Linked DNA regions of Homo sapiens. The protein of the gene in region 2 purifies or fractionates together with the protein of the main gene of each other region. This does not show direct contact. Each region holds a gene or a part of one and is shown on either strand. Other genes may lie near its edges.

Region 1 (2,515 bases), on a different chromosome or scaffold from region 2:
CCCATGGAAGACCCATGTCCAGTGTTTGGTGACTGGAGTAGGGCAGCAGGCCTTTTGCTGCTTGGTATTTGGAGGAGGGTTGGATGGGGTTTGCCGTGGGGTTTTAAGCTGGACAGATAGCTGGCTAGACTGCCAGCCAGCTCATGTCTCTATTTCCGTGCAGCTCTGTGAGAGCGAGCGTGGGCACGGCTGTTTGACCTAGGTTCCCTTTGAAACTCTCAACAAAGCATTCTGATGTTCGACCTCTTTTCTCCGAATGAGGTAACAAATTATGAAACAACCTCATCAGAAGCTCTCTGCAGGCATCTGGGAGCGTGTGTCTCCACTCTGGTCCCCCTTCTAAGTTGCTGGTTCCCCATCAGCGTGCAGCCCAGCCAGAACCCAGGGAGGTAGAATCCCTGGAGGTAAAGGCCCAGCAACAGACGCACAACAGGCACCTTGAGTACATTGTATATTTCTCATTTCCATCTTTTTTGCTATGGAGCAAATGTAACGTTTCCTCCTAGCGTAACGGAGCGTGAGCCACACTGACAGATGATGGTTTCACAGCCTAAGCTGCACATTTGACACTTGTTTCTTAATCCCATCCTTTTCTTCCTTAGTCTCTGTTTTACTTTTCCCCAGGTATTTTTGTGCAGGTAAGTACATTGCTGACATGTGTTTCCTTGGAGTATTTTACTTTAACAGGAAACACTGCAAAAAATGAGGCTTGTCTCGCCTTTTAAATTAGAAAGAGAAGCTCGCAAGGGGCCCTTGATCACTTAAAGAGGCTACATGATTTTCTGAGCCTCGAAAGCCATTTGATTCGCCTTAGCTTTGCAGTAAGCATTTCTCGGAGGGCAGCGTGACAATCATGTGGAGCCTTTCGTTTCCTCGTGGATCGTTTGTAGAACCAGAAAGCTGCGTGATGTCTCTTTCGCGCGCGCACACACACACACACACACACACACACACACACGCTCCCCACCCCCACCTGCAAAGCTGCCGTTTGATTAGCCAACCTGGCCTCGGACGGCGTTTGTGGGAAGGCCTTCCACTTATCTGTGTGTGTTTTTTCTCCTTTGCTGTCTCCTAGAATCATCCAGAACCGCATCCTGCTCGTCATCCTAGGGATCATCGTGGTCATCACCATCCTGATGGCGATCACTTTTTCTGTCAGAAGACACTGATGTATCTGCTCTCCCTTGATAAACAGCAACAACAGCTTGTTCTGAGTAATTAAGACAAAATGGTCACATGAATCATTCTGTTGCGCTGACAGGCCCCAGGTGACCCTCTCTCTCCCTCACCGCCGTTGGGCTGAAGTGCAAAGAGTGTAAAAATATTTTCTATTCCTGTTTGCATGTGGGTTGGTTTCCTTTTCGAGGTTTGTCTTCACCCAGATTCGTTTTTTAGAGGGGAAGGTGAATGTTTATTTACCTTTTTGCTAATGTCATCAACTAGCCAAAATAGCCCCAGTGACACTCCTAGCCCTCTGGACGTGTCAAGGGCCGTGGTTTGGGAGAGGACATGATGAGTCAGTCACGAGAGCTTCTGTTTGTCACCCGCCTCTTGTTGCTGAAAAGCTCTTCTGTGATGTCTGAGGATAAAAATGCAGCAAAAAGCAGGGGATGGAGTCAGTGACCCCGTCCAGCAAGCCAGCCCTGTTCCTACACAGGCCTCATGAATATAGTCATCAACCTGCCTGAGTGCTTTCATTGTAAAGGTCGGTATTTAATGTCGGTTGTACAGGAAATTGACTTAGCACTTTCCCTGTTTTTCTATTGCATAATTTTTTTTTTAACCCAAAGATATTTTTTTTGCTGAGCCTGCCCAGTATTCACTGTTCACAACTTTGATTACTGGCTACAAGAAATATTTTCTTGCCTTCCCCAAATCCCATACTCCCCAGAATCTGCTGGCAAAGTGAGCCCTGGTACAGGATTTAATTGTGACCTCGTCTTCCCTGACCTGTGTAAGCATCTCTGTATCCTTTCGGTTTTAATATCTGCACTGCCAAAAGCAGTCCTCATACTTGCAAAAGGTCTGACAAGGTTCTCTCCACATACATTCCAGTATGTAAAGAGACCATGAATATTTCAGTAAGAGCAAGAACATGACTCCATCAGTGTGAAATTTCAAATGTGATTATAAATATGGGAGAGTCCTATAGGAGGGTCCACCAGAGATAAACTTCACGGAAAACGTTCCCTAACCTCCTTTAAAAGAATAGAGGATGGCAGATTGTTCCAAAAGGAATGGCTTGGGTTTTTAACTAACAAATGTTAGCAAGCCTTTCTTGAATTCACTATGTATTCAAACTTCTAATATGCTTTGTGATTTTTTTCTTTCATTTCTTTCTGTCTGAGGTAACCAGGAATTGCGTTCAAAATGAGCTCATTTGTGATCAGGCTTAAAAGTTGCCCAAGCTGAGGTCGTTTCCCCCCAGTCACAAAGCAGAATGTTTTTCTCAAGACTTCATAGGCACTTACTGGTCCGTACTATCTTTGGAATATAATTAGAAGCTTTGAATCCT
Region 2 (3,500 bases):
ATGTTTTACTCAGCTCTAAAAAGACACAGCCTGGCTCCCCACCCTCAGGAACACCAATTCTACCATTCAGATGGAAAAACAAAGCCCAACAATGCTGCTCCCCAGATGCCTCATGACCATGGTGGGACAGGTACACAACTAGTAAAAGTTTCAATTATAAATTTTTTTTAATTAAAACTTTAGAAATATATATATTTTCAAAACCTATGTAAGACGTTATTTAGAAAAAAAATTATCTACATATATCATTATAATAAACAACTGAAGGCCTTAAGTTGATCTGATACTATGATGATACTCTAAAGGCCTAAGGCCAAACAGGTACTTACAAATCTACTGAAAAAGACAAATGAGAAAAAATAAAAACTTATAGTCATGGTTCACTTTATGTGCAAGACATCATGTGAGGATATTTCTCACACACTGACTAATGTATTCTTCACAACAGTCCAGCAAGACAGGTACTAGTGGCTTCATTTTTACAAATGAATTAACTGAGGCTTAGAGATAATTAATGACCTGCAACACACAGCTAGTCCTCACAGATTTTCATAGGTCTACTGAATTACAAAGGCCACTACAGAATGGACCTCTTTCAGAGAGTCCGTCTAAAAGAAATGAATAAAAGCAACCTACAGAGGACAACAGATAGAGGAAAAGTGGAGAAATGAGCCTCAATTTTAAAATATGTATATGGTCAACAGAGTTAGATGGGTGAGTAAATGGCTATACACCACACAACTAACATCTATTTTATCTAAATCTATGGTGAAATTCAATGCAAGTGGTCAGTTTCCTTATGAGTAGTAGCTTGAGAAGAAAAAAAGAGGTAGGAAAAAATCTCTTAAGTACATGGGTAAAAAATAATCTCACTAGAAACCTCTTTCTTTCAAGAGAAAAGATGAAAGCTATGCAAATGGGTCCACTTACATCATTGTCCATGTACTTGAAAAGCGGTGAGTTGCAGACATCTGACACCTGATCTTGGTCTTGCTGGTCATAACCTTCAAGAAGCTGTTCCAGGGCAGCACAGTCTTCACTGCCATTGAACCCAGGGATGCTGCAGTAAGCACAAATCACACGTCTTCACCTTCTCCTTAAAAGAACACATCTCAGGCAGGGATGATTCTGCCCCTGGCATGTGACACTGTCTGGAGACATTTTGGTACTTAAAAGTGTGGGAATGCTAGTGGCATCTAGAGGGCAGAGACCGGGGATCCCGCTAACCAGCCTACAGTGCACAGGACAGGCCCGACCACAAAGAATTATCCAGCCCAAATGTTAACAGTGTTGAGATTAAGACTGCTCATGTTAAACACCGAGAAAATTCCTCATTTTGATTTCTGTAACATAAATCTGATAATTTTTTCCCCCTTTTTCTTGTTCTTTTTTTCTTAGAAGGCAAATAAAATGACTAAAATGACTAAAGTCATTCACTTCCATGGAGGTCCCCTAGAGAAAAATACAGGAAAGGGAAAAAAAAAAAAGGTGTAAAACACCCACTGTAAAAGATGAAATGGTAGATGAGCACTCCTAAGATTTAGAAATGACAGTTTCATGGCCAGGAACATGTGTCCTAGCAGCAATCTTAGTTGTAGACACAGAGGTGTCGCCACTGCAAGTCAAGAGGGCCCAGACAACGTCTTACCTATAGCTCTCCCGGACACATCTTTCTGCAGCTACATAGTCATTTCTGTGTAGATGAACTAAGACTTGAGCAATTGTTTTCTAAAACAAAAGAGAGGATCATGGTCAAATTTACATCTGTTTAATAAAGTCAATAACCTGGCAGTATTGAAAACACCTGGAGTTTAACTTTCAGAGTCTTTGTTTGTATAAACAGAGATTTATAAATGCTATAGTAACTTCCACGGGACACCTGAGGGGAAATATCCTAGAACAGTACTTTTCCAATTCTCATGTCCTGGAATTTGGCTGCTAGGGGCAAGCCTGGGATTCACCCATTTCTAACAAATTCCAGGGGGCACTCCTGCTGCTGGTCTGGGGACCGCACTTTGACACAAGCCTTAGATCACAACCACGTTTTAAAGAGATCTCTTTCAAATATCTACACAGATTCAATCTTGAAAAGTGAATAAAAAAGAAGTGGGGGGGACCCGTAACACCACAATGATACTTAGAATCCTTAAAAAGAAACTAGGAAAAAGATGTATGAGTGAAAACTTCAGATAACAGAAACAATGATAGTATTGATAAGTCAACAATAAAAGTAGTAATAAGATCAAGGATATGACTGATAAATTACTGGAAAAATAGGTCTTCATGAAGTATTTTTCCATCTTTTGGTGTCTCTATTGTTTAGGTAACTTTTACTGATCTATCTTTAAGTTCACAAAGTCTTCCTTCTGTCATCTCTGAGATTAAGCTTATCCAATTATTTTACTTCAATAATGTATTTGCCAGTCCTAAAATTCCCAATTAGTTCATTTTTATAGTTTCTATAAAAATAATTTTTCCTATAAAAAACAACAGGTCCTCTTTTCTATTCATTTTAATTGTGTTTATCTTTACCTCATGGAGCAACTTATAGTTGCTTCAGTCTTTATGTGATAATGCCAACAACCCTGGTCACTGCCGGGTTGCCATCAGTTGTCTTTTCTCCTGAAAACTGGTCATATTTCCAGGTTCTTGCATGTTGAGTAATTCTGGATTGTACTGTGAATGTGATGCTGCACAGCCTCTGCTTAATTTTCAGGAGAGTACAGATGTTTTCAGCAGGTAATCACCCCAGTTAGGTTCAGACTACATGTGGTGCCTTGTTTTTGGTGGATGGAAGTTCTACACTTAATTCAAATCCTTTGCTATGTGGCTTTGGGCCTGTTCCATGCATAAGCCCTTCAGAGGGCAGTGCAACACTTCGACAGTGATGAAATCTTAGCTCTCCAAGCTTTGCGCTGCACTGCTACTTTGAGGCCTGTCTCAGCACAGCTGAAGAGTAAACCCAAGACTTGTGTGGGCCACATCCACACTCAGGGGACTCCGTTTCCAGCTCTCTCCTTTCCGGAATTTTCTCCTTGCTCTCTAGCTCATTTTCCTAGTTCCTCTGGCAAAAGAGACTGGGGTCCTTGTGGAGTTTTATCAACCTGAGCCATCATCACAGTGTAGCTCCATGCCTGGGACAAGCTTGGAGCAAAGCCAAAGGAGAGGAAAACAATGGGACCTCTTCTCCCATTGCTGGTTAGAAAGGCGGGGTTTCTTTTGGAGTTTTCATTGTTGCAGCCTTTGCTGCCCAGCTCCACAACTGTGGGCTTCTCTCAGGGCAGGGCAATGAATGCTGCAAGAGGAAATGGAAAAAAACCCGAGAAACTCATTCCCATGGTGGTTGTTTCTCCACGTGTTTGCTCCTCTCCTTAGTCTCTTTTTATTTACTTTTCAGAGTTCAAGGGTGGTTGCTTTTGTATTTTATCCAGTAGTTTAGCTGTAATCAGCAGAGAAACAAGCTGTAGTGGGCTTACTCTATCTTGGTCAAAAATAGAGGC
Region 3 (3,500 bases), on a different chromosome or scaffold from region 2:
AGTGGTTCGTTTTTGCCCTGGAGTTCTTACAAAGTTTCACTAGGTGGGTCTAGGTTTTTCTGCTATGGTCAGATGGAAAACTTAAACTTACAGAAAAGAAAGCTTTATATTTCAATCAAAACTCATACCCACAAAGTCCACAGGGGTTGCTGTTACAATTTAGACTCCCTGGGACCAGGTATCTTGTACTGGAGTCTTTCTTTGGAGGGGAGAAAACCTTTTATATACAGATAACCCTCCAATCAACCACCTTCCCACTACAGTTCCAAGTAGCCTGGCAGACCTGCCCAGTGGGCCAGCTAGAACAATGCAGTCCTTTGTTATGGCAGGATGATTTACAACACATGCAGGCTACCAGCACTGCCCCAGACACTACCCCTCCCTTCCTTGCCTTTTCAGAAATGTTTCAGAGCAAGAGAGAAACAAAGCCTCAGACCCTATTTGCAATGTTCCCTCCTCAGTTATATAATCCTAAGGAACATCAAATTTTCCCCACACTCATAATTCTAAAGCATGTCTAACTTCTCGAGCAACTTCAAATAAAAAGAGTTGTAATCTACCAACACTTGCCAACAGGCTTTTATTTAGAACTAATGAACTTGTAGGTGGAATCAGGAAGATCACAAACAGAGGGTTAAGGATAAATGGAAACGATCACTAATTGGACTCGCCAAAAGACAGACTGTCGCCTTCAGGAAAATAAAAAAACTTTTTTTTTTTTTTTTTAAGAATCACAGCAATCCAAGCAAAGTACCTCACTGAGTAGGTATCAAGACCCTTCAGGCAGAATTCCATCATTCTCGCAATTAGTGACAGGGACGCTGGTTGTGGAGGAGTATTTGGAGTGGTGGCAGAAAATTGCATCGGCATTTCCAGCTTGAGTAGGTCTTATCTTCTTAGCGGATGCTCAGAAGCCAAGGTCTGGATGCAGTCGGTCAGTTGCAAATAACAGCTCAGGAATGTTAAGTGGCTTCAGGAGTCGTGTGGACAGCACGATTACCTAACAACAGGAGAGGGCAAACACACCGCAGGGAATTAGGGGGGCCAATCTCAGGGTATTGGATGATGAGAAATAGAATGCAACAAATGTCTTTGGGGGAGGGCATGAAGTGAAGTTCTAGGAAGGAAAAGTAGAAGGCAGCCAGCTGAATGGCACCTGGCGCTAGTGCCCTGCCTGGAAGGAGGGGGGCACAGTCTGGGACAGATGGCCTGTGGGACAGCCGGGCTGTGTCTACTGAACCTTTAGCCAATGGGGCACTCAGGATGGCTGAGACTGGCACTAGGTACATTTGACAGGCAGAGCCCAGCCACTACCTTGCTGCTAAATTGAACTGGATCATATTCTTGCTTTGTAATGCAGTAATTTGACGTCAATATCAAGGTTTCTCCCCATTTCAGGGAGCCTTTGCTCCTCCAGGGAGCATGAGAAGGCACATCCAGGAGGTGGATGTTGTTAGTGATGATGGTGATTGTTAGTTTCCTAGTACCACAAACTGGGTGGCTTAAACAATGGAAACTTACTGTCTCATAGTTCTGGAGCCTAGAAGTCCAAGATCAAGGTGTTGGCAGGGTTGGCACCTTCTAAGGGCTGCGAGGGAATCTGTTCCATGCCTTTCTCCTAGCTACCTTGTGCCTTCACATTGTCTCTCCCTATGCATGTCTGTTGCTGTGTCCAAATTTCCCCTTCTTATATACATACAGTCACACTGGATTAGAGCCCACACTAAAGACCCTATTTTAACTTGATCATCTGCAAAGATCCTATTTCCAGTAAGGTCATATTCACAGATACCAGTGGGGAGGTTAGGACTGCAAGACATTTTAAAGGGGACACATTTCAACTCATAACGATGATGGGAATGATAGTGATAACTAATACTTGTTAATTTCTATGATGTGCCAGGTTCTGAGGATTATCTCATTGAATATCCATTTGATCCTGATATTGAGCTTATGAAATAGATACGTTTATTTTTCCTGCTTTGTAGATGAAGAAAATAAAGTACAGAAAGGCTCAGCAACTTGTACAAGGACACACATACAGTCAGCGGCTGAGTCAGGATCCCAGCGCAGACAGGCTGGCCCCAGTGCCCCCGTGCCTCCCTTCCCTGTCATCAAGGGCTCTGGGCCCTTTACTCCCTTACTCCACATGCACCTTTGGGCTCCTCTGGCTTCTTTCATGGTGACCCTTTCTGCTTCCCTCAGTCTGGATTTTATTCCAGGACAGATTTATCTCTGCAAAGGTGGGAGAGCCTATTCCCTGGGTCTGGGCTGGGGGCGTGATGTGCTTTGCAAGGGCCTGGTTAGGTTTTGCACAAGCAGTATTGTATGCACCCTAGAAGAAGAGGTGACTATGGGAAAAGCTGTCCTAGAGCCTGAATTCCACAGCCCACATCCCTTGGAAGGGGATTCCAAGGCCCACAGCATGACTACATGGCTACGCTCCTTTGGAGTGGTGCAAGTGGGCCCACACACTTTACTATCCTCCTTGCCCACTCCCAAAATTGTCCCAGGTATAATTAAATTAGTGAATTAACCAACCCCAAGTCCACGAGCTCATTGATGGAAAACAAAAAGTCTATACTCCAATGAAGAGAAAAAGTAGAAGAGGAAGAGAGAAGGAAGTATTTCTTGTTGTTAAAGAAAGAATTTTTCAACAACCTTATGAGAAAGTTTTCTGTTTAAAAAACTTAGTCTTTGGAAGCATCTATGTTACTTCTTGAAAGAGGATTATCTTTAACTATATATATATATATATATATATATATATATATATATATATATATATATATATAGTTAATGTCAGCCAAGTCATATTTTTGGCAGAAACAAATTCACTGAAATCTGTGTTTCACGATTTTCCTTGAAAATCATGCAAGGAGCCTTTGAGGACAGTGGGTGAAGATTGGCCTTCTCTATCATCTGCATGCATGATTTAGACACCGTTTGAATGTGTGTCTCCCGAGAGGGTCTCTACGTCTTTCAGGTCTTCCTCACCAAACCTAGTAGGTAATTGAGCCTGGCGGCTTCCAGGCGAGTGCCATCAGCAGACCCTGAGGAGATCCCAGCTCCACACTGACTGGCCAGATGCCTCCAGAAAGTCACAACTTACAGCCTTGCTCACCTCATCTCTCTCAGAAGGAAAATAACAGTGCCAAGCTTGAGGCAGTATGGCAAGGATTACATAAGATCGTGTATGTGGAGCACAGGAAGTGCTCAGCAACTGTGAGCTGCTGTATTATTGTGGTTTTGTGATTTGGTCCTAGATCTCCTTTTGAATCTTATGAAAGCTAAGAACTTTCTAGAAAAATACACAGACATTCATACAAGATTTTGTGTTATAGTTTTAGGGATGGTTCATGAACTCCTAGGAATTCACAGACCACAATTAAGAAGCCCTTTTTCGAACTGGGTGCGGTGGCTCACTCCTGTAATCCCAGCACTTTGGGAGGCCGATTTGGGTGGATCACCTGAGGTCAGGAGTTCAAGATGAGCCTGGG
Region 4 (3,500 bases), on a different chromosome or scaffold from region 2:
GCTCACTCCAACCTCCGTTTCGTAGGTTCAAGCAATTCTCCTGCCTCAGCCTCCCGAGTAGCTGGGACTACAGGTGCATACCACCACACCCAGGTAATTTTTTTTTTTTTGGTTTTTTTTTTTCTTCTAGTAGAGATGGGATTTCACCATATTGGCCAGGCTGGTCTCAAACTCCTGATCTCAGGTAATCTGCCTGCCTTGGCCTCCCAAAGTGCTGGGATTACAGGCTTGAGCCGCTATGCCCGGCCAATAACTTTTTTAAAGACTCAGGCTAACCCAAGCTAAGTTGTTAGCCTGGTTTCCGAATGCAGGTAATCTGGGCTGGGCACTGGAGCTCCTTTACATTTGTCAACTGGAAAGAACAGAATGGCATATTTACTATAAAGTGACATGAGAACTGTAACATGTACTAAGTATACGTGTAAATGAGAATAGTCATCTCTATTTTAGCATATTTGTACATCTACAATAGAGAAAAAAAATTTCCTAATTAAAACACCTCATTCACAGCAAATGAACAAAAACTTTTTAAAAAGCCAACATGTAATTATTTTCAAGAAAGGAAACAAAAATAAAATCTACAGAATGTAGGAGAAATTTTCATTTCTTCTACTGTGCTCAAACCACTTTAAAATATCTTTTTGTTTACCTTGGTCACAGCTTTTGGAGAAAATGTAACTGCATCTACCACAGTGATGAGGTCACCTGGGTGGAGACGATCAAAGTACTTCATGCAGACATCATAGGCATGAAGCCACTCCGGTGAAGAGCCTGGGACTTGTTTAATGAGATGAGGGTCTCCAGTCCAGAACAACTTCTGTAACCAGATGGTGTACAGAGAGCTTGGGGAAAGCATCTGTCCATCCTTTTCAGGGATTTTGGGAACAAGTTTGGAAATAGACAAGATATTTTGACTTGAAAGAACTGGCTCCAATGCTTCAAGAGGACTCATGTTTTCATCTGTCAGCTTTTTGTAATTAAGACCTAGCAGAAAAAAAAAGAAAGTAGGTAAGTGGTTCATTCCAATGTAAACATAGAGTCACTTTCAAACACACACACATAGCCCTCTATATGTCTGAACGCAAAGATCTATCAACTTAGCTCTAAGTAGCTAGTTTATATTTTCTATTAGAAAGATCAGGAGATCTGAGTTCCAGTCACAGCCTGAAACTTATTCGGCTTTGTGATCCCAGATAGGCCATTCATCTTCTGTGTGCCTCCATCTCCTTGTTTGTACCCTAGAGATGACAATATCTCCATGCCTTTCGAATCCGCCGCAGCACCTATGTTTTCTTCTATCAGTGCTTCAACAAACTGCATTACATTTCTTTGTTATTTATCTGGCATTTCACTAGTTACTTGAAGGCAAGGATTGAATCTTATTCCCTTATCCTCTGTGTCTAGGCCAGTGTCTCATTTGATTATTCAGAAAACAACTGATAAACTGATGGGAACTCTCACAATTATTATGAATATCAAACAAACAGATTTGAATGTGCCTTGCAAATTATGAAGTATAAAAATTAAGAGGTCTTAAAGTGTTTAATTTCTTAGTTATGAGCATAAAGACCATTCTAAAGATTTCCATAATTTATCAAATATTCAAAGGCTCTTAAGTGTTCCATGCATATTTTAAACATATAGGCTCCAGTGGAATGAAATTCTGCTCAACTGCCTATTATAAAGTGTCTTGGCCTTGCCATTTATATACATAAAATATAATCAATGGGAGTAGTGAAAAAATCCTGGAGCAGAAGTCCAAAACTTTGGATTTTAGTACCAAGTCTACCATAAGTCACTGTGCGACTTTCAATAGGTTTCTTACTTTTTCTGGTATTTAATTCCCTCAACTATAAGTGAAAGAGTTGGAAAGATAATAACTAAAGTCGATTAGCTTCAAAATTCTGTGGTTTCAGAGCTCTGCAACCATAATGCATGAACAGGATTGTGTACAGAAAATTAATCCCCAGATTTAATTGAAAAGAATGAATTCAAGCAGGGAAACAACCATCCTACCTGATGCAACAACCTTAAACTTCTTCAGCAGTCGAATGTGGGTTTCTGGTTTAATGGCACAGTTCCCCAAATCTGCACAGCCACAGTTTTCCAGAAGAGTGAAATAATACTGCAGCCTTTCGTGATCAAAGCCACCAATAGTAGGGTAAATATACTTGACCATGTGCTGGTGAAAGGCTTCTGGATCAGTCTTCAAAGTCTCAAAGAGATGAAGGTCTTGGGCTCTATTTTCAATTTCTAGTGTGGACAAACTGAAATTAAGAGCCAAAGGAACTGTGTTAAGATTTTGTTCCTTTATTAAAGTGATTTTTTTTTTAACCAAGGAAGAAACACTACTTCTTATAGCTCCCTTCTTCCTGCCTACTCAAAGACAGTAAACCACCACCAGAAGCCAGTCAGCCTGAATAAAGGAAAACAAATGTGTTAGATGCCTACTAACATTTAACTGACTACACACTCGTCATGTTATCTCACGGGGGTCTACAGCAACCCTGTGAAGTAGCTTTAACTTCAAGTTCCTGCAGTTGGGAGAGCTGTCTGATGTCTCCCAGCTAGAAAATAAACCAACATCTGTCAGCGTCCACTCTTAATCATTTATTCATTCATAAAAAGGGTTTAAAAATCTATACTTCTTCACAGAAACATAAACAGCCTTATTATTTCAGGAATTTAGGAAATGATACAGAAAAAACCCTAAACTTTCAGGCTTAAGATTTACATGCAAGAGTCTTGAATTAATATTCAATAAACCCAAATTTTATGCTGTGTCCAGATAAAAGAAAAATAGAAAAAGAGGGATAATTAAACTTTCACTTGGGTTATCTGCAGTAATGCTACTTAAATAAAACACATATCTTAATATTTTCATCCTAACTTAGATGTCTTTGTAATCTAATTTTAAAAAGTCACTTAAACTCTTGGGAAAAGAAAAAGTAAGGTATTTTTGCTTGGTTGATTGGTTTGTGCTTTTAGAAGGGGAAAGGAGGGGGTTAATTTTGGTCTTGTGCTTCTCCCTGGACAGAATCTGGACAGAGCCTGTGGTCTAGTGTAATCTCAATGCCCCTTACGTGATGAGTTTCATACTCCCTAATTGTAAGAGTCCTTCAGGCAGCCCTGCATTCACAGAAGTACCCAGGTTCTAGGGTTCTCGGAAGCAGCAACAGAAGCATCTGGGGGCAGTAAGTGAGACCTTGGGCAGCAACAAAGTTAGGCTTCAAAAAGTTCTAAAGCAGCTCCTCTGAAACATGACAACTTGTTTACTGAAAGTGCCCAAAGACATGTTTTTGGTTTATGTAGATAAAGTTAGTATAAATCATGTTTTAAAACTTTCAGGGGAATGTGACAACACTTGGGTTAAAAAGGGTAATCTACAAAGTCAAAGCATCAAGTAATTTTTAAAAACTGGTCTTTTTACTTTTGCTTCAAGAAAAACCTTATTTTTCCATTAAGACACAGTGCAAACATTTACAAGAATATCTCTATCT

The links. Proteins that work in one complex are often made in the same cells at the same time.
Region 1: the proteins of NAPG (region 2) and VTI1A purify together in Homo sapiens (affinity purification with mass spectrometry; 2 studies listed by BioGRID and IntAct, with this or other methods). This does not show direct contact.
Region 3: the proteins of NAPG (region 2) and SCFD2 purify together in Homo sapiens (affinity purification with mass spectrometry; 3 studies listed by BioGRID and IntAct, with this or other methods). This does not show direct contact.
Region 4: the proteins of NAPG (region 2) and NBAS purify together in Homo sapiens (affinity purification with mass spectrometry; 3 studies listed by BioGRID and IntAct, with this or other methods). This does not show direct contact.

The regions. Positions count from the first base shown.
Region 1 is NC_000010.11:112,814,215-112,816,729, forward strand, and holds part of VTI1A (vesicle transport through interaction with t-SNAREs homolog 1A), read left to right. Parts: intron 1-1,075; coding exon 1,076-1,169; 3' UTR 1,170-2,515. UniProt on the Homo sapiens protein: V-SNARE that mediates vesicle transport pathways through interactions with t-SNAREs on the target membrane. These interactions are proposed to mediate aspects of the specificity of vesicle trafficking and to promote fusion of the lipid bilayers.
Region 2 is NC_000018.10:10,546,527-10,550,026, reverse strand, and holds part of NAPG (gamma-soluble NSF attachment protein), read right to left. Parts: intron 1,729-3,500; coding exon 1,649-1,728; intron 1,061-1,648; coding exon 931-1,060; intron 1-930. UniProt on the Homo sapiens protein: Required for vesicular transport between the endoplasmic reticulum and the Golgi apparatus.
Region 3 is NC_000004.12:52,873,062-52,876,561, forward strand, and holds part of SCFD2 (sec1 family domain-containing protein 2), read right to left. Parts: intron 1,001-3,500; coding exon 908-1,000; 3' UTR 1-907. UniProt on the Homo sapiens protein: May be involved in protein transport.
Region 4 is NC_000002.12:15,274,835-15,278,334, forward strand, and holds part of NBAS (NBAS subunit of NRZ tethering complex), read right to left. Parts: intron 2,268-3,500; coding exon 2,017-2,267; intron 985-2,016; coding exon 650-984; intron 1-649. UniProt on the Homo sapiens protein: Involved in Golgi-to-endoplasmic reticulum (ER) retrograde transport; the function is proposed to depend on its association in the NRZ complex which is believed to play a role in SNARE assembly at the ER. Required for normal embryonic development.